Linked DNA regions of Homo sapiens. The protein of the gene in region 2 interacts with the protein of the main gene of each other region in a pairwise test. Each region holds a gene or a part of one and is shown on either strand. Other genes may lie near its edges. The genes, in order: TRIM72 and MZT1.

Evidence for each region.
Region 1: the proteins of MZT1 (region 2) and TRIM72 interact in binary tests that used the Homo sapiens proteins (3 or more experiments, as listed by UniProt).

Annotation. Positions count from the first base shown.
Region 1 is NC_000016.10:31,220,799-31,233,208, reverse strand, and holds the end of TRIM72 (tripartite motif-containing protein 72), read right to left. Parts: intron 12,314-12,410; coding exon 12,291-12,313; intron 10,383-12,290; coding exon 10,264-10,382; intron 9,029-10,263; coding exon 8,454-9,028; 3' UTR 1,672-8,453; downstream 1-1,671. UniProt on the Homo sapiens protein: Muscle-specific E3 ubiquitin-protein ligase that plays a central role in cell membrane repair by nucleating the assembly of the repair machinery at injury sites.
Region 2 is NC_000013.11:72,712,753-72,725,162, forward strand, and holds part of MZT1 (mitotic-spindle organizing protein 1), read right to left. Parts: intron 6,346-12,410; coding exon 6,200-6,345; intron 1-6,199. UniProt on the Homo sapiens protein: Required for the recruitment and the assembly of the gamma-tubulin ring complex (gTuRC) at the centrosome.

The DNA.
Region 1 (12,410 bases), on a different chromosome or scaffold from region 2:
TAAATAATAATAATTTTAAGAACTCACATTTTTGAGAGTCTGAAGGCCTATACAAATGGCCAGCACCAATGCAAAATTTTGTGGACATCTCTTTTTTTTTTTTTTTTTTTTTCCCAAGGCAGAAGAATTTTTCTTAGTACAGAACAAAATGAAAAGTCTCCCATGTCTACCTCTTTCTACACAGACACGGCAACCATCCGATTTCTCAATCTTTTCCCCACTTTTCCCCCCTTTCTATTCCACAAAACCGCCACTGTCATCATGGCCCGTTCTCAATGAGCTATTGGGTACACCTCCCAGACGGAGTGGTGGCCGGGCAGAGGGGCTCCTCACTTCCCAGTAGGGGCGGCCGGGCAGAGGCGCCCCTCACCTCCCGGACGGGGCGGCTGGCCAGGCGGGGGGCTGACCCTCCCACCTCCCTCCCGGACGGGGCGGCTGGCGGGGCAGAGGGGCTCCTCACTTCCCAGTAGGGGCGGCCGGGCAGAGGCGCCCCTCACCTCCCGGACGGGGCGGCTGGCCGGGCGGGGGGCTGACCCCCCACCTCCCTCCCGGACGGGGCAGCTGGCCGGGCGGGGGGGCTGACCCCCCCACCTCCCTCCCGGACGGGGCGGCTGGCGGGGCAGAGGGGCTCCTCACTTCCCAGTAGGGGCGGCCGGGCAGAGGCGCCCCTCACCTCCCGGACGGGGCGGCTGGCCGGGCGGGGGGCTGACCCCCCCACCTCCCTCCCGGACGGGGCGGCTGGCCGGATGGGGGGCTGACCCCCCCAACTCCCTCCCGGACGGGGCGGCTGGCCAGGCGGGGGGCTGACCCCCCCACCTCCCTCCCGGACGAGGTGGCTGCCGGGCGGAGACGCTCCTCACTTCCCAGACGGGATGGCTGCTGGGCGGAGGGGCTCCTCACTTCTCAGACGGGGCGGTTGCCAGGCAGAGGGTCTCCTCACTTCTCAGACGGGGCGGCCGGGCAGAGATGCTCCTCACATCCCAGACGGGGCGGCGGGGCAGAGGTGCTCCCCACATCTCAGACGATGGGCGGCCGGGCAGAGGCGCTCCTCACTTCCTAGATGGGATGGCGGCCGGGCAGAGACGCTCCTCACTTTCCAGACTGGGCAGCCAGGCAGAGGGGCTCCTCACATCCCAGACGATGGGCGGCCAGGCGGAGACGCTCCTCACTTCCCAGACGGGGTGGCGGCCGGGCAGAGGCTGCAATCTTGGCACTTTGGGAGGCCAAGGCAGGCGGCTGGGAGGTGGAGGTTGTAGCGAGCCGAGATCACGCCACTGCACTCCAGCCTGGGCACCATTGAGCACTGAGTGAACGAGACTCCGTCTGCAATCCCGGCACCTCGGGAGGCCGAGGCTGGCGGATCACTCGCGGTTAGGAGCTGGAGACCAGCCCGGCCAACACAGCGAAACCCCGTCTCCACCAAAAAACTACGAAAACCAGTCAGGCGAGGCGGCGCGCGCCTGCAATCGCAGGCACTCGGCAGGCTGAGGCAGGAGAATCAGGCCAGGGAGGTTGCAGTGAACCGAGATGGCAGCAGTACCGTCCAGCTTCCGCTCGGCATCAGAGGGAGACCGTGGAAAGAGAGGGAGAGGGAGACCATGGGGAGAGGGAGAGGGAGAGGGAGAGGGAGAGCGACATCTCTTGTTTTAGCTTGAAAATTCACACAGATTCTGTACTCTATGTTTGTTTTAATGGGAACGTGACATCTTGATTTTTACTTTTGGTTAAATTACCCAACTTTCTCACCACCACCAGTATCAAGAAGAAGAATATTGGCATAAAGTCGATACTCCAAGATGCATCATGCTTCTGTGGACCGGGGTCCTTTGTGGTCAGACTGTCATGCACCCAGGGGATGCGTGAACCCAGTATAAGAGGCAACCTAAGCCGGACGCGGTGGCTCACGCCTGTAATCCCAGCACTTTGGGAGGCCGAGGCGGGCGGATCACGAGGTCAGGAGATGGAGACCATCCTGGCAAACATGGTGAAACCCCGTCTCTACTAAAAATACAAAAAAATTAACCAGGCATGGTGGCGGGCGCCTGTAGTCCCAGCTACTTGGGAGGCTGAGGCAGGAGAATGGCGTGAACCCAGAGGGCGGAGGTTGCAGTGAGCCGAGATCACGCCACTGCACTCCAGCCTGGGAGACAGTGAGACTCCATCTCAAAAAAAAAACAAAACAAAACAAAAGAGGCAACCTAGTGGGGCTCTCGTTGTTGTGAGATCCAGGGTTGCGAAGATCAGTGAGATTCTGAATAGAGAGCTATTGACGCATAATAAGGTCTCAATAAATTTTCTTTTTTTTCCTTTGAGACAGAGTCTCATTCTGCAGTGGGATAATTTAGGAATCAGAGAGACCAAGAGGTTGAGGAGGATACTTATTATTTATTATTTAGTTAGGTGCACTGGCCCGGTCAGATTAACATCCAAAAAGACTGAGCCCTGAACAAAGAGTCCGGTTACCTTTTTTTTTTTTTTTTTTTGAGGCGGAGTCTCGCTCTGTCACCCAGGCTGGAGTGTAGTGGCGCCATCTCGGCTCACTGCAAGCTCCGCCTCCCGGGTTCAGGCCATTCTCCTGCCTCAGCCTCCCAAGTAGCTGGGACTACAGGTGCCTGCCACCACGCCCGGCTAATTTTTTGTATTTTTAGTAGAGACGGGGTTTCAACATGTTAACCAGGACGGTCTCGATCTCCTGACCTCATGATCCGCCTGCCTCAGCCTCCCAAAGTGCTGGGATTACAGGCGTGAGCCACCACGCCCGGCTCCGGTTACCTTTTAAGCATTTTGTGGGGCAGGGGGAGATCTGTGCAGGGGGAAGCATATTACAGAAGCAAGAAACAAAGACAGTTATTCAGTTGAGACATGCATTACATCATTTTTTACTTTTCAAGGAAAAACATGTTTTATGACTTGAGTTTATCTGCCTAGTGACCTTGCAGCTGCACAGCTAGAGAAACAGGGTCTTCACAATGCCTGGGAAAGGGAGAGAGATAAGGCTCACTATCCACAGAAAAACAGGCAGTTAATTTTTAAAGGACTTTAGCTCTTTCTCTTCCTCAGGGTGAATGGGGTTTTCTTACATACAACTGAGTTTTTGCTTACACATTCTTTAATTTCTTTTAATTCCTGTTTTAACTCTCTCACCCAGACTGGAATGCAGTGGCCCGATCTCAGCTCATCGGAACCTCTGCCTCCCAGGTTCAAGTGATTCTCCTGCCTCAGCCTCCTGAGTAGCTGGGATTGCAGGCATGCACCACCATGCCTGGCTAATTTTTGTATTTTTAGTAAAGATGGGGTTTCACCATGTTGACCAGACTGGTCTCGAACTCCTGACCTCAGGTGATTCACCCGCCTCAACCTCCAAAAGTGCTGGGATTACAGGCGTGAGCCACTGCACCTGGCCACGATAAATGTTCTTGCTTGCAGTTTTATCATGGCCTTGGCAGGTTCAAGTTTGCTATTATGCTACCTAAAGATGTCAGGAAACACAGGAAATGTCTTGGCAGCCAGTTTCTGGGGGTTTCCAGCGTTCCCGTGGAGAGGAGGGACTCACGGAGGGGACGCTGGTGCTTTAGAACACATGTGCTGGAGGAACTCCTTTCTCTGTTCACATTTCACCTTCCTACATCCCCAGGGAGACCCTGCCTGGGTCAGGCAGCCCCACCCGACAAGGACCACCTGGATTACGCAGCTTTTCCCACAAAGCCCACCTCACTCAGTCAGCCATGGGCCATTTCCTTCAATGCATGCAGCTCAAGCTGGGGCAACTATACGCAGAAAGAACCTGTGGCAGCTTCGAAAGAAAGTTTCCTGATATAATTCCAACAAAAGGCAGCATACATTACTCAGCTCTGCAGGGAGACTAAAGCCAGCCCGGGTCCCGGAAGGCACAGGAGTGTTTGGACGGTGGCTCTGGCTGCCGGAGACGCCACAAGAGCCTTCCCTCCCTCCCTCCCACACGAACAGCAGACTTGCGACACGGTCTGATGGCCCTCCCCATCTTCCCTCACATGGGCATCTTCCCTCCTAAAATCTCTGCCCATTTAATCCTATCTTGGCATCTGCTTCTCAGAGTACCCATTTCCTCAGAAGGAGGCTTTGGGTCTCAGATACCACCATCCCTCCAGACACCATGGCCTGTGTGTAGACAATTCAATGCCGTGGGCTACACATGGTGGAGGAGCTGCTGGGCGATCCAGAGAGGAGAGTAACTGATTCTTCCTGGAGGCCTAGAAGGTCAAGAGAGGACAGGAAATGGTGGTGTTTTGGGAGAGCCATGAAGGATAAGTGGGAGGGAACTGACATTCCTAAAAAAGAAGTGCAGGGGCCAGGCCCGACAGCTCATGCCTGTAATCCCAGCACTTTGGGAGGCTGAGGCGGGCAGATCATTTGAGGTCAGGAGTTCGAGATCAGCCTGGCCAACATGGCAAAACCCCGCCTCTACTAAAAATACAAATAAAAATGAAAAAACTAACCTGGCGTGGTGGTGGGTGCCTGTAATCCTAGCTACTGCGGAGGCTGAGGCAGGAGAATCACTTGAACCTGGGAGGCAGAGGTTGCAGTGAGCTGAGATAGCACCATTGCACTCCAGCCTGGGCGACAGAGCAAGACTGCATCTCAAAAAAAAAAAAAAAAAAAAGGAGGTGCAGAGACCCCAGCAGTTCAGTTCAGCATAGCCAGAGTGTAGACATGCACAGGGCGGTGATCCAAGGTGAGGCTGGACACAGCCCACAGCCCACAGTCTACAGGGTGAGGAGCAACACAGGAGACCACAGGTCCCTCCCTCACTGTGGCCAGTCCTTAGCCTGAGCAATGACAGAGAGTTCAGTGACAGTCAATGGACAGCAGCCTTTCCCCAACACTAGGATCCCAAAGAGCTTTTGTTATGTGGTTTTATCTTTCAATATTTGCCCTGTTAGATATTAAAACAGAGAACTTTTCTTTTTAAGATGAAGCTGGGGCTGGGCGCGGCGGTTCAAGCCTGTAATCCTAGTACTTTGGGAGGCCGAGTTGGGGGATCCCCTGAGGTCAGGAGTTCGAGACCAGGCTGGCCAACATAGTGAAGCCCCTGTCCCCACTAGAAATACAAAAATCAGCTAGGCGTAGTGTCACCTGCCTATAGTCCCAGCTACTCGGGAGGCTGAGGCAGGAGGATCACTTGAACCTGGGAGGCAGAGGTTGCAGTGAGCCAAGATCACACCACTGCACTCTAACCTGGGTGACACGGTGAGACTCCATCTCAAAAAATAATAATAAAATAAAAGATGAAGCTGGGCTGGGCTCAGTGGCTCACACCTGTAATCCCAACACTTTGGGAAGCCAAGATGGGAGGATCGCTTGAGGCCAGGAGCTCGAGACCAGCATGAGCAACATAGTGAGACCTCATCTCTACCAAAATACAAAAAATAAAAAATAGTCAGGCATGGTGATGGGTGCCTGCCATCCTATCTACTCAGGAGGCTGGAGTGGGAGGATCATGTGAGCCCAGGAGGTCAAGGCTGCAGTGAGCCACAATCACACCATTGCACTCCAGCCTGTGCGACAGAGCAAGACCTTGTCTCAAAAAAAAAAATTGTTTTTTAACTAAAAACAGATGAAGCTGGAAGGCCAGCCTGTAATCCCAGCACTTTGGGAGGCCAAAATGGGTGGATCACCTGAGGTCAGGAGTTCGAGACCAGCCTGGCGGGCACCTGTAATCCCAGCTACTCGGGAGGCTGAGGCAGGAGAATCCCTTGAACCTAGGAGGCGGAGGTTACGGTGATCACACCACTGCACTCCAGCCTGGGCGACAGAGCGAGACTCTGTCTCAAACAAAACAAACAAACCAACCAACAAAAAAAATGGCAGAACAGCTCAAATGCTAAGCCAAAGACTGGGGGCTTTATCCTGTAGGCAAGAGGGAGTTGTTGAAAGTTTTGAGCAACTGAGTCCCGTGACCACATTTGCATTTTTGGAAACATTACCAAGTCAGGATTAAAGGCTGGAGGGCAATTAGGAGGCCTTGCAGTAGGTCACATGTCTTTTCATGTGGATTTAATGAGGAAGGAGTCAGAATATAACAGTTTTATTAATGGTGTTGGATTTTACAACCAAATAATCCCTTAGCTATATTGTTTTATTTTCTAACATGAAAGAGCTTCTACCGTTAATCCTCTCTTCTGTCTCCTGAAGCCAGGGCTCCACAGGCCTTCCTCTGGGAGACACACCCAGGTGTGCCGCCTTCCCCTGCCAGATCCTCAGGCCTTTCTTACCCAACTCACAACTTCCCTTTCACCCTTAGTCCCATACCCACCATCTCCCGAGAAAACCTCCGCAATGGGCTGCCGGGGCCCCAGGCCCTTCCACCCATCCCGCCAGCACACCCTCCCCGTGAAAATGAGTGACCCCAGGCCAGCGTCTTCCCTCAGGAGAGAAGCCTGTCTGGATCCCCAAAGGCCTCTCCCTCCAGGGAAGAGGGACTCTCACTCTGGCCTCAGTGGTTACTCCAGAGCCCAAGAAATGCCCTGTGCGCTAAAACCAAAGAAGGTGTGAACCAGCAAGTAAGTGGGGAGCGGCCAGTTCTGGGACATCTAGTTGGGGGCCTTCTCTTCCCCATGAGCAGCAGGGACCAGTGTGACCTTGGCATCAGGCTCTTTCTCTTGGCTGGCTTCCTCAACGTTCAAGACGCTCGATAAACATATCCCAGAGGCAAAGCAAGTTAAGTCGAGGGTTGTTTATTCACCTAGAATCAGCTCCAGCCATTTTCCAATGTCTTCTTTTTGTTGTTTTTCTGGTTTTTGTTGCAACAGGGTCTCACTATGTTCCCCAGGCTGGTCTCAAACTCCTGGCCTCAAATGAGCCTCCTGCCTCAAACTCCCAAAGTGTTGGGTTTACAGGCATGAGTACCCAGCCCTTAAGTGTCTTTGCTTTGGTTTATGTTTGTTTGTTTCCTTCCACTCCTGGTGCAAACCTTACATGTTTTTGACTGGGGAAACATATTTTGGACCTATGCCTCTACACTGACAGTGAAGAGCCCAATGGGTTGTGCACTAGGTCAGGGCTTCCCGCAGCGTCAGCCCCTGTGGCCAGCAGCGTCACCTGGGAACCTGCTAGAAATGCACATTTTTGGCAGGGCGTGGTGGCTCACACCTGTAATCCCAGCACTTGGAAGGCCAAGGCAGGAGGATCACCTGAGGCCAAGAGTTCAAGATCAGCCTGGGCAATGTAACGAGACACCATTTCTACAAAAACTAAATTAAAAAAAAAAAAATGAGCATTTTCAGCCAGGTGCAGTGGCTCATGTCTGTAATCCCAGCACTATGGGAGGCCAAGGCGGGTGAATCACTTGAGGTCAGGAGTTCGAGACCAGCTTGGCCAACATAGTGAAACCCCTACTAAAAATAAAAATAAATAGCCAGGTGTGGTGGCGGGCGTCTGTAGTCCCAGCTACTTGGGAGGCTGAGGCATGAGAATTGCTTGAACCCTGGAGGCAGAGGTTGCAGTGAGCCGAGATGGCACCACTGCACTCTAGCCTTGAGTGACAGAGCAAGACTCTGTCTCAAAAAAAAAAAAAAAAAAAAAAAAAAGAAATAAAAAAAAGAAATGAGCATTTTTGACCTGTCCAACCTACTAAATCAGAAACTTAGCACCCTATGCTTTAACAAGTCATGGCTAAGGGCTTTAAAAAGGTGATTTTAATGCATGCCTAAGGTGGAGAACTAAGGAGAAGGCTTTTGGGTAAGGTGAATCTGGAGCGGGGGACCCAAGGCCTAAGGAGGAGGGGAGTGTGAGGCAAAAGGAGCCCCTTATCTACAGGTTCTCAAGCTCCTCCCATCAATCCCCCAACCTGGCCCTGTCCCTCCCTCGCTCAACCTTAGTTTCTTCCTGGAATTCTCAGGCCTCCTGGTTCCCAAATTCTGATTTCCCCACTGACCTGACTCCAGATCTCCCTACCCCACTGGGTCTTGTCCCCAGCGTCACTCCAACCCCTCACCAGCAGTCCCCAGGCCATGCCAACCCCCACACTTTTTTTTTTTTTTGAGACAGAGTCTCACTCTTGTCACCCAGGCTAGAGTGCAGTGCCGCAATGTCTGCTCACTGCAACCTCCACCTCCTGGGTTCAAGCAATTATCCTGCCTCAGCCTCCCAACTAGCTGGGATTACAGGCGTATGCCACCGCGCCCAGCTCATTTTTGTATTTTCAGTAGAGAGGAGTTTCACCATGTTGGCCAGGCTGGTCTTGAACTCCTGACCTCAGGTGATCCACCCGCCTCCGTCTCCCAAAGTGCTGGGATTACAGGCATGAGCCACCAAGCCAGTCCTACCCCACGCTTGTCAGTATTCTGGGAGATCCCCCAGTTCCCAGCCCCCTGGGCCCTGGCAACCCGCTCCCCACCCTTCTCCCGTCAGACCCGACCAAGGAGACCTAAGCTTCAACCCAGGCCCCCGCGCCCCTCCACTACCCGTCCGGCGGCTCAGGCCTCGGCGCCTTCGGGACCCACGAGCAGCAGCGGCTGGGCATTCTTGCCCTTGTCGTGCCAGCACACGTCGAAGAAGGGGTACACGGGCCTGGGCAGGCGCTCGTGGAAGGCAAAAAGCGGCACGAGCGCGTCGGCGTCGCTGGCATCGTAGAAGGAGAGGACGCCGTCGCCGAAGCTCAGGTAAAGGCCAATGCGCGTGGGCCGCCTCTCGGGGCTGCGCAGAGCGCGCGGCTCCTTGGCCTCCACGTGTGCCTCCAGGATCTTGCCCTCGCGCAGCCCCAGCAGCCACAGGCCCTGCGAGGGCACCGCGTGCAGGCGCCCGCGGCGGGGGGCCTCGGCCGCGATCACGCCCAGCGCCCAGCGCGGCTTGTCGCCAACATCCACCTCCCAGTAGTGCTCGCCCTCGGAGAGCTGCTGGTGCGCCACCACCGCCACCGCCTTGTCGAACTGGCGCGGGTCCTCCCCGGCCGGCGGCGCCTTCTGCTCCGAGCACTCCACGCGGCGGCCAGAGGAAGACACCACCAGGCTCGGGTGCGCAGAGCTCGGGTCAAAGGTCAGCTCCTCCAGCGCTGCCAGAGAGAACACGGTCAGAAAACCCTAGGTTTCTGCCTCGCTGGGGTCTTCTCCCAACCAATTGCAGGCCAGCTTTCTCTCCCCTAATCCTCTTGGCATCTCTGCTCACTGGGCTTGGGCCACAAGATCACACCTGGCTCAACTTCAGTTTGCCCAGCTGTGAGATGAGGCCATGATTGCTTCCCTCCAGGGTTGCAGGCAGGCCTGCATTTTCTTTTTGTTTTTGTTGTTGTTATTGTTGTTGTTTTTTGTTTTTGTTTTTTGTTTTTTTGAGGCGGGGTCTCACTCTGTCGCCCAGGCTGGAGCGCAGGTGCAACCTAGGCTCACTGCAACTTCCAACTCCCAGGCTCAAGCAATCCTCCCATCTCCCATCTCCCAAGTAGCTGGGACTACAGCCACGTGCCACCACACCTGGCTAATTTTTTTAAGTTTTTGTAGAGACAGGTGTTCTCACTATGTTGCCCAGGCTGGTCTCCAACTCCTGGGCTCAAGTGATCCTCCCACCTCGGCCTCCCAAAGTTCTGGGATTACAAGCGTGAGCCACCGAGCCTGGCCAACAGGACTAAATTGATACAAGGCATGGGACTCACCATCTGAGGCCCAGACAAGGCCCAAGGCCCAAGGTCAAGGAGCCTGATCTTCACATCAGCCTAGACCCAGTCTCTGAGCCTTAGTTTTATCTTGAATAAAATGAGGCTGTCTGCATTCCCACCTGCGCTGAGGCAGGAAGGGCTGCCCCAGCAATGTGTATGTCCCAGAGCTCTGTAACCTGCATCATCCAGCTCTTGGGGGGAGGAACTGAGCCCTTGGGCCTCCCCAGCCACAGGCCGCCAGAGTCACTCTCTGACCCAGGCCAGTCCCCAGGGTTCCAGGAGCTCTGCAGAGCCTCAGTCCCCAATTGGCAGGATTTATCATCTCCACCGTCCAGAGAGGGGCAGAGACTGACCAAGGATCACACAGCAAGTCAGTGGCTCAGACCTAGGCCCCAGCGTCCCGTGCCACCAACAGCAGCAGCATTTTCATGTCAGTCACCCACTGCAAACCCCATGCTCTCAAAGGCCCTCCTCCCAACACAGGTTAGAGGACTGCAGCGGCAGTCCAGAGGCAAAGGGGCAATGGGTACCTCCTTCAGTGGCCTCCCCAGTTGGGACTGGGAGGCCTCTCCAGGGTGGCTAGGGCCTCCCATCAACTGCCTGGTCACACACAAACCTGAGCCAGTCCCTCCCGGTACCTGGCATCAGAGCCCGGAACATCTTCCTCCACACCTGGAATTTGAAGTCATCTGAGATAATTGGCAGCTGGATGTCCAGACGGGCGGGTGGGGGAGACTCTGCCAGGATCTTCTGCAGCCTGGGGGTGGGGAGGGGAAGGGGAGGCATGTGTGAGGGGGGAGGACAAGGGCTGGGGGGATTCCAGGATCTCCCCACATCGCACCCCTGCTTAAAACTCTTCCTTTGGAGTTTTGGTTTGGGAAGATGAGAAAATTCTGGAGATAAACACTGGTGATGGTTGTACAATGTGAATGTACTTAGCACCACTGAATTTAAATGCACACTTAAAAATGCTTAAAATGAGCGAGGTAGAGTGTAGTCCCAGCTGCTCAGGGAGGCTGACTCAGGAGGCTCACTGGAGCTCAGAAATTTGAGTCCAGTCTGGGCAACATAGCAAGATCCTGTCTAAAAAAAAAAAAAAAAGAAGAAGAAGAAGCTGAAAATTGTCAATTTTATGTTACATGTATTATTTTACCACTGTTTATTTGGTTTTGGTCTTTTTTTTTTTTTTTTGAGATTGAGTCTGGCTCTATCACCCAGGCTGGGGTGTAGTGGCATGATCTTGGCTCACTGCAGCCTCTGCCTCCCCAGTTCAAGCAATTCTCCTGCCTCAGCCAACCAAGTAGCTGGGATTATAGGCGCCTACCACCATGCCTGGCTAATTTTTGTGTTTTTAGTAGAGGTGAGGTTTTGCCATGTTGGCCAGGCTAGTCTCGAACTGCTGACCTCAGGTGATCTGCCCGCCTCAGCCTCCCAAAGTGCTTGGATGACAGGCGTGAGCCACTGCACCCGGCCCAACTACATTTTCTTTTAATCCTTCTGTTGGGATAAGGTCCAAGCCTCTCAGCTTCGCCAGTGTGCACACACCTACTACCGCAGCTTCCTCTTCCCTCCCACTCGCCAGCCCTCTCGCTGGCTGTCCCCTCTCCCAGCAATGCCATTCTCCCAGCAACACCCTTCTCCCAGCAATGCCCTTCTCCCAGCAACACCCTTCTGCCAGCAACACCCTTCTCCCAGCAACGCCCTTTTCCCTGCAATGCCCTTCTCCCCACAATGCCCTTCTCTCTGCAATGCCCTTCTTCTCCCAGCAATACCCTTCTCCCCGCAATGCCCTTCTCCCAGCAATGCCCTTCTCCCAGCAATGCCCTTCTCCCCACAGTGCGCTTCTTCTCCCAGCAATGCCTTTCTCCCCGCAATGCCCTTCTCCCCACAATGCCCTTCTTCTCCCAGCAATGCCCTTCTCCTAGCAATGCCCTTCTTCTCCCAGCAATGCCCTTCTCCCAGCAATGCCCTTCTCCCAATGCCCTTCTCCCCAGCAATGCCCTTCTCCCCGCAGTGCCCTTCTCCCCACAATGCCCTTCTCCCCACAATGCCCTTCTCCCTGCAATGCCCTTCTCCCCATAATGCCCTTCTCCCAGCAATGCCCTTCTTCTCCCAGCAATGTCCTTCTTCTCCCAGAAATGCCCTTCTCCCAGCAATGCCCTTCTCCCAGCAGTGCCCTTCTCCCCGCAATGCCCTTCTCCCCATAATGCCCTTCTCCCAGCAATGCCCTTCTTTTCCCAGCAATGTTCTTCTCCCAGCAATACCCTTCTTCTCTCAGCAATGCCCTTCTCCCCGCAATGCCTTTCTCCTCACAATGCCCTTCTTCTCCCAACGCTTTGCCTAGCCAGCTCCTGTTCATCCCTCCAGGCCCCAACTCAAACATTCACTCCATCCCTGGCCACCTCTTTCCCTCAACGGCCACACTGAGCACACAGTGACGCCTGTGTCCCCACCCACATGTGTCTCACGGCACCAATCTAGGAGGTCCCTGAGTGAAAGGATCCTTCCAGATCATTTCTGTCTACAACCTTGTGTTCAGGCAGGGGTGGGGCAGCAGACTGAATTGCGGGTGTGCAGGCACAATAGTGAGTGGAGAGTGAGCCGGCTGGTGTCCCTAGAAGACTGGGACAAGTCGGGCAAAGGGACAGGGCCAGGTTGCTCTCACCTGCTGGTCACCAGGCAGTATTTCTGGAGAGAGAGAAAAAGAGAATGGTGGTGAAGCCGATGGTGGGGACACTGGAAACTTTTGAGGATGGGGTAGACAACTAGGAATGCTGAGTGCAAC
Region 2 (12,410 bases):
AGTCACCTGCCTCAGCTAGGTTTATTTGACTCTGGTTCTCTTATATGCACTCAAACTGTAGTACAAAACAAAAATATCTTCCTATTATGTTAATTCCCTTTCAAATTCAAGCACAGTAAAACAAAAACTCTTGCAGTTGTGGCAGATGTGTACTAAATAAATCTTTCCCTCAAAAATTTCAGAAATACACTGATAAAATACTATAATACTCATTTTTATTTTTATTAAAAGTTATTAGATAATATTAAGTCAGGGAATGTGCCCATGCTAAAGCCCAAGGACTCTTGTTTCTAATAACGACTTCATCTTTTCCTAAACTGCTGGCTCAGGAATTCTTGAGATTTTACTGGAGGAGAAAACTTAGTAGTTAAGTAAACAACTCTGAAGTCAGAGAGCCCAAGTTCAAATCTCAGGTCAATCACTAACTGTAAAGTTCTTAAGGTAAGTAAATTAGTCACCATAAGCTTCAGTTTCCTTAGCAGTAAACTACTAATAGTAGCATAGGATAAGTATCCCTTGTCGGAAATGCTTGGGACCAGAACTGTTTCTGATTTCAGATGTCCTAAAATTTTGGAAAATTTGCATTGAAGTTGTCCCTTGGTATCCATGGTGAATTGTTAGTTCCAGGACTCCCCATCTTCCCCACCTCACAGATACGAAGGTCCACAGATGCTCAAATGCCTTATATAAAAGGGTATAGTATTTGCATATAACCTACATGTATCCTCCCACATACTTTACATCATCTCTGGATTCGTTGTGATACCTAACACGATGTAAACGCTATGTAAATAGTTGTTATCCTGTATTGTTTAGGGAATCATGAGAAGAAAAAAAGTCTGTACATTCTTAGTACAGACATAACCATCCTTCCCCCTGTTCCCCAAATATTTTTGATCCACAGCTGGTTGAATCCATGGATGCAGAACCCACAAATACAGAGGACTGACTGTACTTGCTGACTGAGCATCCCTAATTAGAAAATCTGAAATGTTCCAGTGAGGATTTCCTTTGAGTGTCATGTTGGTACTCAAAGTATTTCAGATTTTGGAGCATGTTGGATTTTCAGATTTGGAATGCTCAAACTGTAGTAGTTATCACTGTTATAATGATAGAGGAAATAATGCCAGTAAAGCCTGTAGAACATACGGTCTGGCATGAGAAAAGTATTCATATAAATATTAGCTATTCTTGTTATTCAGTTATTTTTCTTTCTGCCATATGAAAGCCAAAGGTTTGAGGTAAAAAAGAAACTTCCCTATCTAAATAGGAGACAAGTGCTGATAGCCAAGATAATGGGTAAAAGGCCTAGACAGCATTTCAGAGATCTAAGACACGGCCCTTCCCATGACAGTCTCCGAGGCCCAGGATCAGGACCTGGAGCAAAGGTCATGCATGTTATGCTTTAGCAAAAAATTTGGCTGCATTGTGCCCATGTCCTAGGGATCTGTGGAAGTTTGGACTTGAGAGTGATTTAGGGTATCTGGTGGAAGAAATTTCTAAGCAGCCAAGTGTTCAACATGTTGCATGGCTCCTTCTAACAGCATATGCTCAGATGCATGAGCAAAGAAATAACCTAAGGCTGGAACTTATACTTAAAGGGGAGGCAGAGCATAAAAGTTTAGAAAATGTGCAACCTGTCCATGTGGTAGAAAAGAAAAGCCCATTTTCAGGAGAATTCAAGGGGGCTGCAAAGCAACCACTTGCTAGAGAAATTTCTGAATCTAAATAGAAGGCAAGTGCTGATAGCCAAGATAATGGGTAAAAGGCCTAGACAACATTTCAGAGATCTAAGAGGCAGCCCTTCCCATTACAGGCCCTGAGAACTAGGATAGAATGGTTTTATGGGCCAGGCTCAGGGCCCCGCAGCCCTCCACAGCCTTGGGACATTGCTTCTTGCATCCCAGCCACTCTGGCTCCAGCCATGACTCAAAGTGGCCCAGGTATAGCTTGGGACACGGCTTCAGAGGATCCAAGACATAAGCCTTGGTGACTTTCATGTGGTGTCAAGCCTGTGGGTGCACAGAGTACAATGGCTGAGGCTTGGCAGCCTCCATCTAGATTTCAGAGGATATATGGAAAAGCCTGGGTATCTAGGCAGAAGCCTGCTTCAGGGGTGGAGCCCTCATGGAGAATCTCTACTAGAGTAGTGCAGAGGGGAAATATGGGGTTGGAGCCCCTACACAATGTCCTCACTGGGGAACTGCCGAATGGAGCTGTGAGAAGAGGGCCACCGTTCTCCAACCCCAGAATGGTAGATCCACTGACAGCTTGTACCCTGAGCCTTGAAAAGCTGCAGACACTCAACAATGCCAGCCCACGAAAGCAGCCATGGGGGCTTAACCCTGTAAAGCCACAGGGGCAGAGTTGCTCAAGGCCTTGGGAGCATACCCCTCCCACCAGTGTGTCCTGCATGTGGGACACAGAGTCAAAGGAGATTTTTTTGGAGCTTTAAGATTTAATGACTACCCTGCTGGGTTTGGAACTTGTATGGGGCCTGTAGCCTCTTTCATTTGGCTGATTTACCCATTTTGGGATGGGAATGTTTACCCAATGTCTATAATCCCATTGTGTCTTGGAAGTAAATAACTTGTTTTAGATTTTACAGGCTCATAGGTGGAAGGGACTTGCCTTGTCTCAGAACTTTGGACTTTTGAGTTATTGCTGGAATGAGTTAAGACTTTTGGGGACTGTTGGGAAGGCATGATTGTATGTTGCAATGTGAGAAGAACACATGAGATCTGGGAAGGGCCAGCGAGGGAATGATAGTTTGGATGTGCATCCCCACCCAAATTTCACCTTGAAATGTAATTTCCAATGTTGTAATCTCCATTGTAATCTCCAATGTTGGAGGTGGGGCCTGGTGGGAGTTGACTGAATTCATCCCTCATGAATGGTTTAGCACCATCCTCTTGGTGCTGTACTCGCTAAAGTGAGTGAATTCTTAAGAGTTATGGTTACATAAAACTGTGGCACCTCACTCTCTCCCTCTCTTGCTCCTGTTTTTGCCATGTGACATGCCTTCTCCCCCTTTGTTTCCATAATGATTGTAACCTTCCTAAGGCCTCTCCAGAAGCAGATGCCACTATGCTTTCTATACAGCCTGCAGAACTATGAGCCAATTAAACCTCTTTTCTTTACAAATTATCTGGTCTCCGGTTTTTTTGTTTTTGTTTTTTTTTAAGAGGAAGTCTTCCTCTGTTGCCCAGGCTAGAGTACAGTGGTGTGAATCTTGGCTCACTGCCACCTCCGCCTCTTGGGTTCAAGTGATTCTCTTGCCTCAGCCTCCCGAGCAGCTGGGATTACAGTGCCTGCCATAATGCCTGGCTAATTTTTTTATTTTTAGTAGAGATGGGTTTCACTATGTTGGCCAGGCTGGTCTTGAACTCCTGACTTCAAGTGCTCTGCCCACCTCAGCCTCCCAAAGTACTGGGATTACTGGCTTAAGCTATCATGCCCGGCAGGTATTTCTTTATATCAATTCAAGAATGGACTAATACAGAGTCTACCATAAAAGTGAGGATAGTAGTTACTGGAGAGGAGAGCAAGAGAGAGGGGTTAGTGACTGGGGAGAGGGCAGAAGGGGGATTATCTGGTGCTGGCAGTGATGGTTGCATGGATATTCTCTTTATGATACATTTTAGCTCTACAAATGTGGTTTACCCTTTTTAGTTAGATTTAATAATCAAGAGATTTTAAAAAGCACAAAAACAAACCTAAAGAATAAGAACTCATTGGAAAATAATCTGAAAGATATGTAAATTGCATGTTTTAAATAGTTGATTTCTTAAAGGTAAGAAAAAAGAGAAGTCACTTTGTATCAGGTATCAGAAGGTTTTATTTGTTTGTTTGTTTTTCCCCCCATTGACCGTCTCTATGAGCCCATGTTTTGGACAAGTTTTAAGATGAACTAACTTAAAGTTTCAGTATTCAAAGTGAGTTAGTGCTATATAAAAAGGGAAATAAAATCACAAGCTTTTAAATCAGAAAGTCTGTGGAAGACAGAATAGGACATGTTTTTAGTTGCCAATCTGAGCAATTAAAACGTGGTTAATTTGAATTGGAAAAAAGGTGGCCCTCTGGGAACCTGGTGGCAGCAGCAGTCCCATGGTCTCTGAGGCGCTCTTGGAGTCACTTTTTCCTTTTCTTGAAGGATAACACATGGGCCCTCAGCTGAGCAGCTCTATCAGCCAGTTTCCTGTCTAAACAATCCCACTAATCTGATAGCCTTCTTTCACTTCATCCTGTCCAAGCTGGCAGTGTTTGTGTTGAGATGGTTGACTGGCTCTATCACATACCTAATGTCTTCACAAAAGTGTAGCCACACTCTTAGCCCTGTCTCCAGAACATGTTATTCAGACAGGCTGAGAATTTTCTAAATTCTCAGATGCTAGTTCCTTTTCTCTTAGCAGGTCCTTACTCGATTGCTCATTTGTGTCACATTATTAAGCAGCAAAAAGAAATCAGGCTACACCTTCCACAATTTGCTTGGAAATTTCCTCAATGAAATATCCAAGTTCATTGCTTACATATTCTATTTTCCTTCCAACAATAGAACACAATTCAGCCACAATCTGTCACTTTCTTTTTTTTTTTTTTTTTTTTAGATGGAGTTTCGCTCCTGTTGCCCAGGCTGGAGTGCAATATCGCAATCTTGGCTCACTGCAACCTCTGCCTCCTGGGTTCAAGCAATTCTCCTGCCTCAGCCACCCAAGTAGCTGGGATTACAGGCATGTGCCACCACGCCTGGCTAATTTTGTATTTTTAGTAGAGATGGAGTTTCATTATGTTGGTCAGGCTGGTTTTGAACTCCTGACATCAGGTGATCCACCCACCTTGGTGTCCCATAGTGTTGGGATTACAGGCATTAAGCCACTGTGCCTGGCCCATTCTGTCACTTTCTAACAAAGACCACCTTTCTTTTAGTGTCCAATAAATGTTCCCCATTTCCATCTGGGTCTTCACTAAAAGTGCTTTTAACATTTACATTTCTAGCAACATTCTGATCCTAATGTTAGTCTCGAAAAAACTCTGAAGCTTTCTCTACAGTTCTTTTCTCTTCTTTCTGAGCCCTCACCAGAATTGCCTCAACATTCACAGTTCTACTAACAGTTCCTCTTCAAGGAAATCTAGTCTTTTTCTATCAAGCACCTTAAAACTTTCCAGTCTCTATCCAATACCCAATTCCAAAGCCACATCCTCACTTTTAAGTATTTGTTACAGCAACACCCCACTTCCCAGTACCAAAATCTGTATCAGATTTCTGGGACTGCCATAATAAAGTAACCACATATTAGGTGGGTTAAAACAACAAAAATCTATTTACAGTTTGAAGGCCAGAAATCCATACCTACTATACATATTTAACCAAGGCGTTAGCTGGGTCATGCTCTCTGACAGCTCTAGGGGAATATCCTTCCTTGCCTCTTTCTAGCTTCTTATGGCCACAGAAAATCCTTAACTTTCCTTGGCTATTTGTGTCCAAATTTCTCTTCTAAGGCCACCAATTATTGGGTTAGGATCTACCCTAATCCAGGATGACCTCATCTTAATTTGATTATATCTGCAAAGGCATTATTTCTAAATAAGGTCATATTCATTGGGACCAGGGGTTAGGACCTCAACATGCCTCTTCTGGAGCAGGCACAATTTTACTCACCAAATAGCACAATTCTAAAAACAGACTTCTGGGAAAACATAACATGGTCCATGGTAGTAGTAATTTTTCTTTTTTTTTTTTTTAGACGGAGTCTCACTCTGTCACCCAGTCTGGAGTGCAGTGTCGCCAACTTGGCTCACTGCAAGCTCCGCGCCTCCTGGGTTCACGCCATTCTCCTGCCTCAGCCTCCCAAGTAGCTGGGACTACAGGTGCCCACCACCACGCCTGGCTAATTTTTTTGTATTTTTAGTAGAGAATGGGGCTTTACTGTGTTAGCCAGGATGGTTTCGATCTCCTGACCTCATGATCCGCCCAACTCAGCCTCCCAAAGTGCTGGGATTACAGGTGTGAGCCACTGCGCCCGGCCTAGTAGTAGTAATTTTTATGATATGAACATACACTATTGAGCTCCTGGTCTTCTAGTGGTGTTGCATGTTAGTTTAACCTTGTTTAACCAGGATGTTTCCCATAACTTCATCATTAATCATTTTTCTAAATAAAAGCATCTTTATTTAGAATGAACTAATAGGAATCTCCAACCTTCAGTGCTTCAGTAGCCTTGCGAAGCTCCTTAATAACCGATGATAAAGCTTCTGGGTTAATTCCTTGTTCACAAAGCCGTACACAAATAGACAGAGTTTCCATATCTAAGCCAGTATTCAAAATTCTTGAAATCTCAAGCAGAACTGAAAAAAGATACAAAAAAAAAAAAAACTTAAGGCTTACAGCATTTAAAAATATGCATATAGTACTTTCATTAATTTATATATCACTGCACAATACCAAGGAATTAGCATAGCATCCCAGGTTTTGGAAATCTGCATGTAATACTTTCTTGCCTTTACTTAGTTTTAGAAACTTAAATATAAATATAAACTTACACCTTCCCTTCACATAACTGCCTTTTACATCTTGCTATATATTCTAGCACTTGTTTAATATCTAACATGTATCCACCATACTTAGGATAATTCTGAACACTTGCTTATTTTTTAGTATTCTTTTAAAATGCAGTTTAACTAGTCGCATATTATTCCATTTTATGGAAACACTATACTTAACTACTCTGTTACTTTAAAAGTTAGGCTGCTCTCATGTTTCTCTCATTAAAATAATATTGGTAAGAATCTGTACATACTAAATTTTATTTCATTAGGATAAATTTCTAGAAGTAGAACTGCTCAGTCAGTAATATACATATTTAATTTGCTGAATTGACATACAATAGTCAAAAAAAGGTAATGTACATATTTAAGGCTTTAAAAGTGTTTAGAAACTTTTATAACAATTTGACAGCGTAATCATGTCTGTTGAATCTAATAATAAAAATGAAACCTTATATTTTTTAAACTTCATTTGTATAGTACTGCATTTTATTGTAGTTGATAGAACTCATTGTCTTTAACATGAGAAGCACAAACAGAGAAACTTGGTTTCCAAAGTGATTTTCAGAATCCCTTCCATTACAGGTTGTAAGTACACCGGTTCCACTGAATTTTGTTTTAAGATTGCTTCCCAGAGAGTATTTAGAATATTTTAAGTCAACTGTCAACATATTATCTATTGTTTCCTATATCATTTCCCCTTGGCATTATGCTTAGAAAATTATTCCCCATGAAAAGATTATATCCACCAGTATTCTCTTCCAGCACTTTGAAGTTTATTTCCCAAAACCCCCCATAAGTATTTATCTCCCTAGAGTTTGGGTGGAAAATAGGATCTAACTTTTCCTCCCAGAAATGAGCCAGTTGCCCCAGTAAAATTTATTGAATGACCTAAGTTTTCCCCACCCAGTTGAGATGCCACCTTTATTCATAGTAAATTCCCATATACTTACAAATTTGTTACATGTCTATCTTTTGTAAGGGCAACCATTTAATTTCTAACTTTATATTGCATGTAGTAGGGTAAACATTCCGTTGTCATCTTTCATTTATATAAGCCATTTTATTCTTCGGATGAACTGAACATTTTTCATCAATTCTAAAAACAAATTCCAACTGGATTCTGATTAACTGTATAAAAACTACATTATTATTTTGGGAAGAATGGACAAGTTATCAATATTTAGTCACCCATTAATTTAAGTCTAAGTCTTTCTGAAAATTCTTATAGTATTTATCATGTTCATGAGATAGGTCCCTCCCATTTCTTCCATATCAGATATTCACTTTCATCCCTAGAAGTTCAATTTGAGCCGGGCGCAGTGGCTCACGCCTGTAATCCCAACACTTTGGGAGAGCAAGGTGGACAGATCACCTGAGGTCGGGAGTTCGAGACCAGCCTGACCAACATGGAGAAACCCCGTCTCTACTAAAAATACAAAATTAGCCAGGCAAGGTGGCGCATGCCTGTAATCCCAGCTACTTGGAAGACTGAGGCAGGAGAATCGCTTGAACCCGGGAAGTAAAGGTTGCGGTGAGCCGAGATTGCGCCATTGCACTCCAGCCTGGGCAACAAGAGCAAAACTCTGTCTCAAAAGAAAAAACAAACAAACAAAAATAGCAGTTCAATTTGAGTCTTAAAAAAAAAAATGTCTTTCATGCCTCTACTAAACTTTTTGGAGATATGGAGTATAGTTCTGATGCCCTTGTCTGCTAATTCTAACATCTGTGTGATCGGGGGGGTGTTCGTTACAATTGACTGAATTTTTCACATCATGGGTCATACTGTTCTGCCTTGCATATCTGGTAATCTTTGATTGGATGCCATGTACTTAGAATTTTACTTAGGTACCGGATAGTTTTGTATTTCTAATTCTTGAGCTTTATAATGAGATACCGTTATCTGGAAATGGTTTGATCCTTTCGGATATTACTTCTTAGATCTGTTAGGCAGGACCAGAGCCCTGTTTAGGATAGGGCTAATTATTCCCCTTATGATTGAGGTAAGAATTCTGAGTACTGTATCCAATGTCTTATGAATTACAAAGATTTCCATTCTGGCTGGTAGTTACAGGCACTATCCTCAGCCCTGTGTAAGCACGGTGCACGGTTCACTCTAATCCTTCTAGATGGTTCCCTCCCAGCTTTCTGAGTACTTTCCTCACACATCTGCTAATCAATGCTCTGAATACTTAAGGGGGACACTTCTACAGATCTCCAGCATTCTTTCTGTGCAGTTCTCCCCTCTCAGGTACTGTTATTCAAACTCTACCTGCCTTGGTCTCCCAGGTCTTCTAAACTCCTCCTACTCACTTCAGTGTGTCCACTGGGTTCTCCCTGCTATACTGAGGCCTGGAACTCTCTGAAGGCAGTGAGCTGGGGCAACCCAAGAAATCACTTTGCTTGTTTCCTGTCTCTAAGGGATCACTGTACTCTGATGCCTGATGTCCAGTGTCTTGAAAACCATTGTTCTGTATGCTTTACCTGAGTTTTCTTGGTTGTTTCAAGTAGAAGCATAAATCTAATCTCTGTTACTCCATCTTGGCTGGAAGATGACAGCTCTTCCCATTTTCATTTCTTCAGTTTTGATATTCCAATTTACTGATACTTTGCTCTTCAGCTGTATCCAGCCTGTTATTCATATTATCTGCTGAATTTATTTCAAATTTATTTCAGTAGCTTTCAAGATTTCTAATTTCTAATTTCTCACCATAAACACTTGTTTTATAACTAAATGCTTATTTATAGTGACAAATTTCACAGCTGTTGTTCCTGCCTTCGTCTATTTAAGGCTATATTCTTAAACTGTATTTGAGATTGCTCTATTATCTCTATTTCTTGGAGTATAAGCAAGCAGCAAAAGACAGTGGTTAGGAGTGTGATCTCTAGAGCCAGACTACCTGTGTTCAAATTCTAGCTGTAGTATTTAGTAGGCAAGTTACTCTCTCTGTGCCTTATTTCACCATTCTCGAAAGTGAGGATAATAAGAGTACCTGTTTTAAAGGATTAGTGTGAGAATTAAAGGATACACTTAGAATGGTATCCATTTGTTTTGCTGACACTGCCTTGCAGTCCTTTGGAATGGTGCTTGGCATACGGTAGGGCTCAATAAAAAAGAGTTCCCTGTTACTACCACTTTCCCTCTTTTTCCTTTTCCATGTTAGTTGCTCATGTTTTTCATCTACCTTAGGTGCTTTGTCATTCTTGGCTGAAAACTCATCTTCCATAGATTTATTTTAGGTGTCCTGGACTGGTGGCCCATTCTAAGATAGGAAGCCGTACCCTAGCTTTAGGCCTCTAGATCAGGCCTTGTAGTATTTTTGGTCCAGATCCAAAAAACACATGGATGGTGCTTCTCAATCTCTGGCTGTGACAAATGGCACATTTCTGACTCCCAACTTCAGTGAGGCAGGGTAGCATGCTTTGTCAGATTCTATTCCCGACAATCCCCTGCTGTGGTTCCCATCTGCTCCTTTCTTTTGGGGGGAAACCTCTCTCTTCCTAATCAATGGAGACTTCCCTTCTTGCTTTTGAACAGGTCTATCCTGATAATTATATTTTCTTACTATTTCCTATTTTTTTATATGCTTAGAGTTTCAGCAAGTGCTCAATCTACCATATTGAATCTTCACTTTATTTTTGACTGTCTTCACAAATGGATTCTACTTAGCCCTTGTACATTCTAAGTGGTTACCATCAGTATACTGGAACACTACATATTAAACTTTTTAATCACCAGTCACCTTGATGAATTCTATGATGCTTCTAACAGTTTTTCAGTTGATTCTCTCCCTTCTCTCTCCAGTTTCCAGTTTGTTCTCTTCATGGTAGACCCCCCCACGTATAAAGGCTATGCTTATTCCTGACTTCATGCCTTTGTTCTTGCTTTTCTCCTCTGCCTTTTATCCTCCCTTCATATAACTCAATGCTGTTTTCTTAGTCCATCTCATTTGTGGTTTCTTCTTTAAGCCTTCTTTTCAAATGGACACCTATTTTTACTTCCTATTTTCACAAATCGCCTGTAATCAAAAACTATTTCTTTAGTGCCTACCATATGATCAGTACAGGTTGAACACTCCTAATTCCAAAATCTGAAATGTGAAATGCCGCAAAATCCAAAACTTATTAAGTACTGACATAACACCGTAGTGGAAAATTCCACACCTCATATAATGGATCAAAGTCAAAATGCAGGTGCACAATACACAGTTCATTCAGCATCCCTGAGGGAAAAAACCAAAATTACCTTCAGGCTATGTGTATAAGGTATATATAAAACATACAAGAATTCTGTGTTTGGACTTGGGTCCCATCCCCAAGATATCTCATTATGTATGTGAAAATATTACAAAAAAAAAAATCTGAAATCCAAAACATGGTCCCAAGGTTTTTGGATGAGAGATAATCAACCTCTAACTATATGTATTTTGTGCCTATTATGCTACTGCTGCAAATACAGTTATGAACAAGGTATATATGGTCCCACTCCTCACAGATATTAGTCCAGGAGGAGAGATAGATATTAAAGTAATAACTGATTCCAGATATAAGTAAAATAAATAAAGAGTGGAATACTTCTGAAACAAATTACAAGGGCATCTTACCAAGTTTGGAAGGACACAGTGTTTAGCAAAGACTTGTCTGAAGAAGTGACAATTACACTTAGACATCAAAAGTGAGTAGAAATCAACCAGACTAATACAGAGGCAGGAGGAAGGGTGATGGTTGAGAGCAAAGAAAACAGCTTGTGTGATGGTCCCTACACTAGAGGGAACTTGGTAAATTCAGACCTGAACTGCTATTGTGAAGGCAATGTAATTAACGGGGTGAATGGGTATAAAATATGAGGTAAGTCCTAGTGAAGATCTTAGAACTGTGGAAAGCTACTGGATGATATAAAATAGGAACATAAAAAAATCAAACTTGCATTTTAAGGACTTTTTGGCTGAGTATCAAATGAATCTTTAAAAAGTCCAGTTATATCACAATTTTGATAAAAGACTGGTGGGTAGGATGAACAGGAGATATTTAGCCAACCTGAAATGAGTCAAGAATTGAAAGGGCTTAGTGAAGAACAGGAGGCAGAGGAGGTGAGAAAGCAAGACTGACTTCTAGATTTCTTTCTCAAATGTGCAACTGGATTGATGGTGGTAGCATGGACTGTTTCGCTGGTACTGCCTTGCAGTGCTAGTCAAATGGAATCTATATACCATAGATTCTCTTAACTCCTTTCTCTATAACGTGTTTTTTTTTTTTTTTTTGAGATGGAGTCTAGCTCTGTCACCCAGTCTGCAGTGCAGTGGCGCAATCTCAGCTCACGACAACCTTCGCCTCCCAGGTTCAAGCGATTCTCCTGCCTCAGCCTCCCAAGTAGCTGGGATTACAGGCACCCGTACTTACTACTAAATATATATATATATATACATATATATATATATATATATACACATATATATATGTAAAGTGGTGCTACAGGCCGGGCACAGTGGCTCACGCCTATAATCCCAGCACTTTGGGAGGCTGAGGCGGGTGGATCACCTGAGGTCAGGAGTTCCAGACCAGACTGGCCAACATGGTGAAACCCTGTCTCTACTAAAAATACAAAAATTAGCTGGGCGTGGTGGCGGGCGCCTATAATCCTAGTTACTCCAGAGGCCAAGGCAGGAGAATTGGTTCCCATCCCCAGCTTCAACCTGGGAGGCGGAGGTTGCAGTGAGCCAAGGTCGCGCCACTGCACTCCAGCCAGACTCGGTCTCAAAAAAAAAAAAAAAATAGTGCTATGATAAAGCCTCTCATAAGGAATAATTATCAAAATTAAAATTCAGATGCACAGGACGATTTTAGAGGAAAATAAAAATTAAGGTATA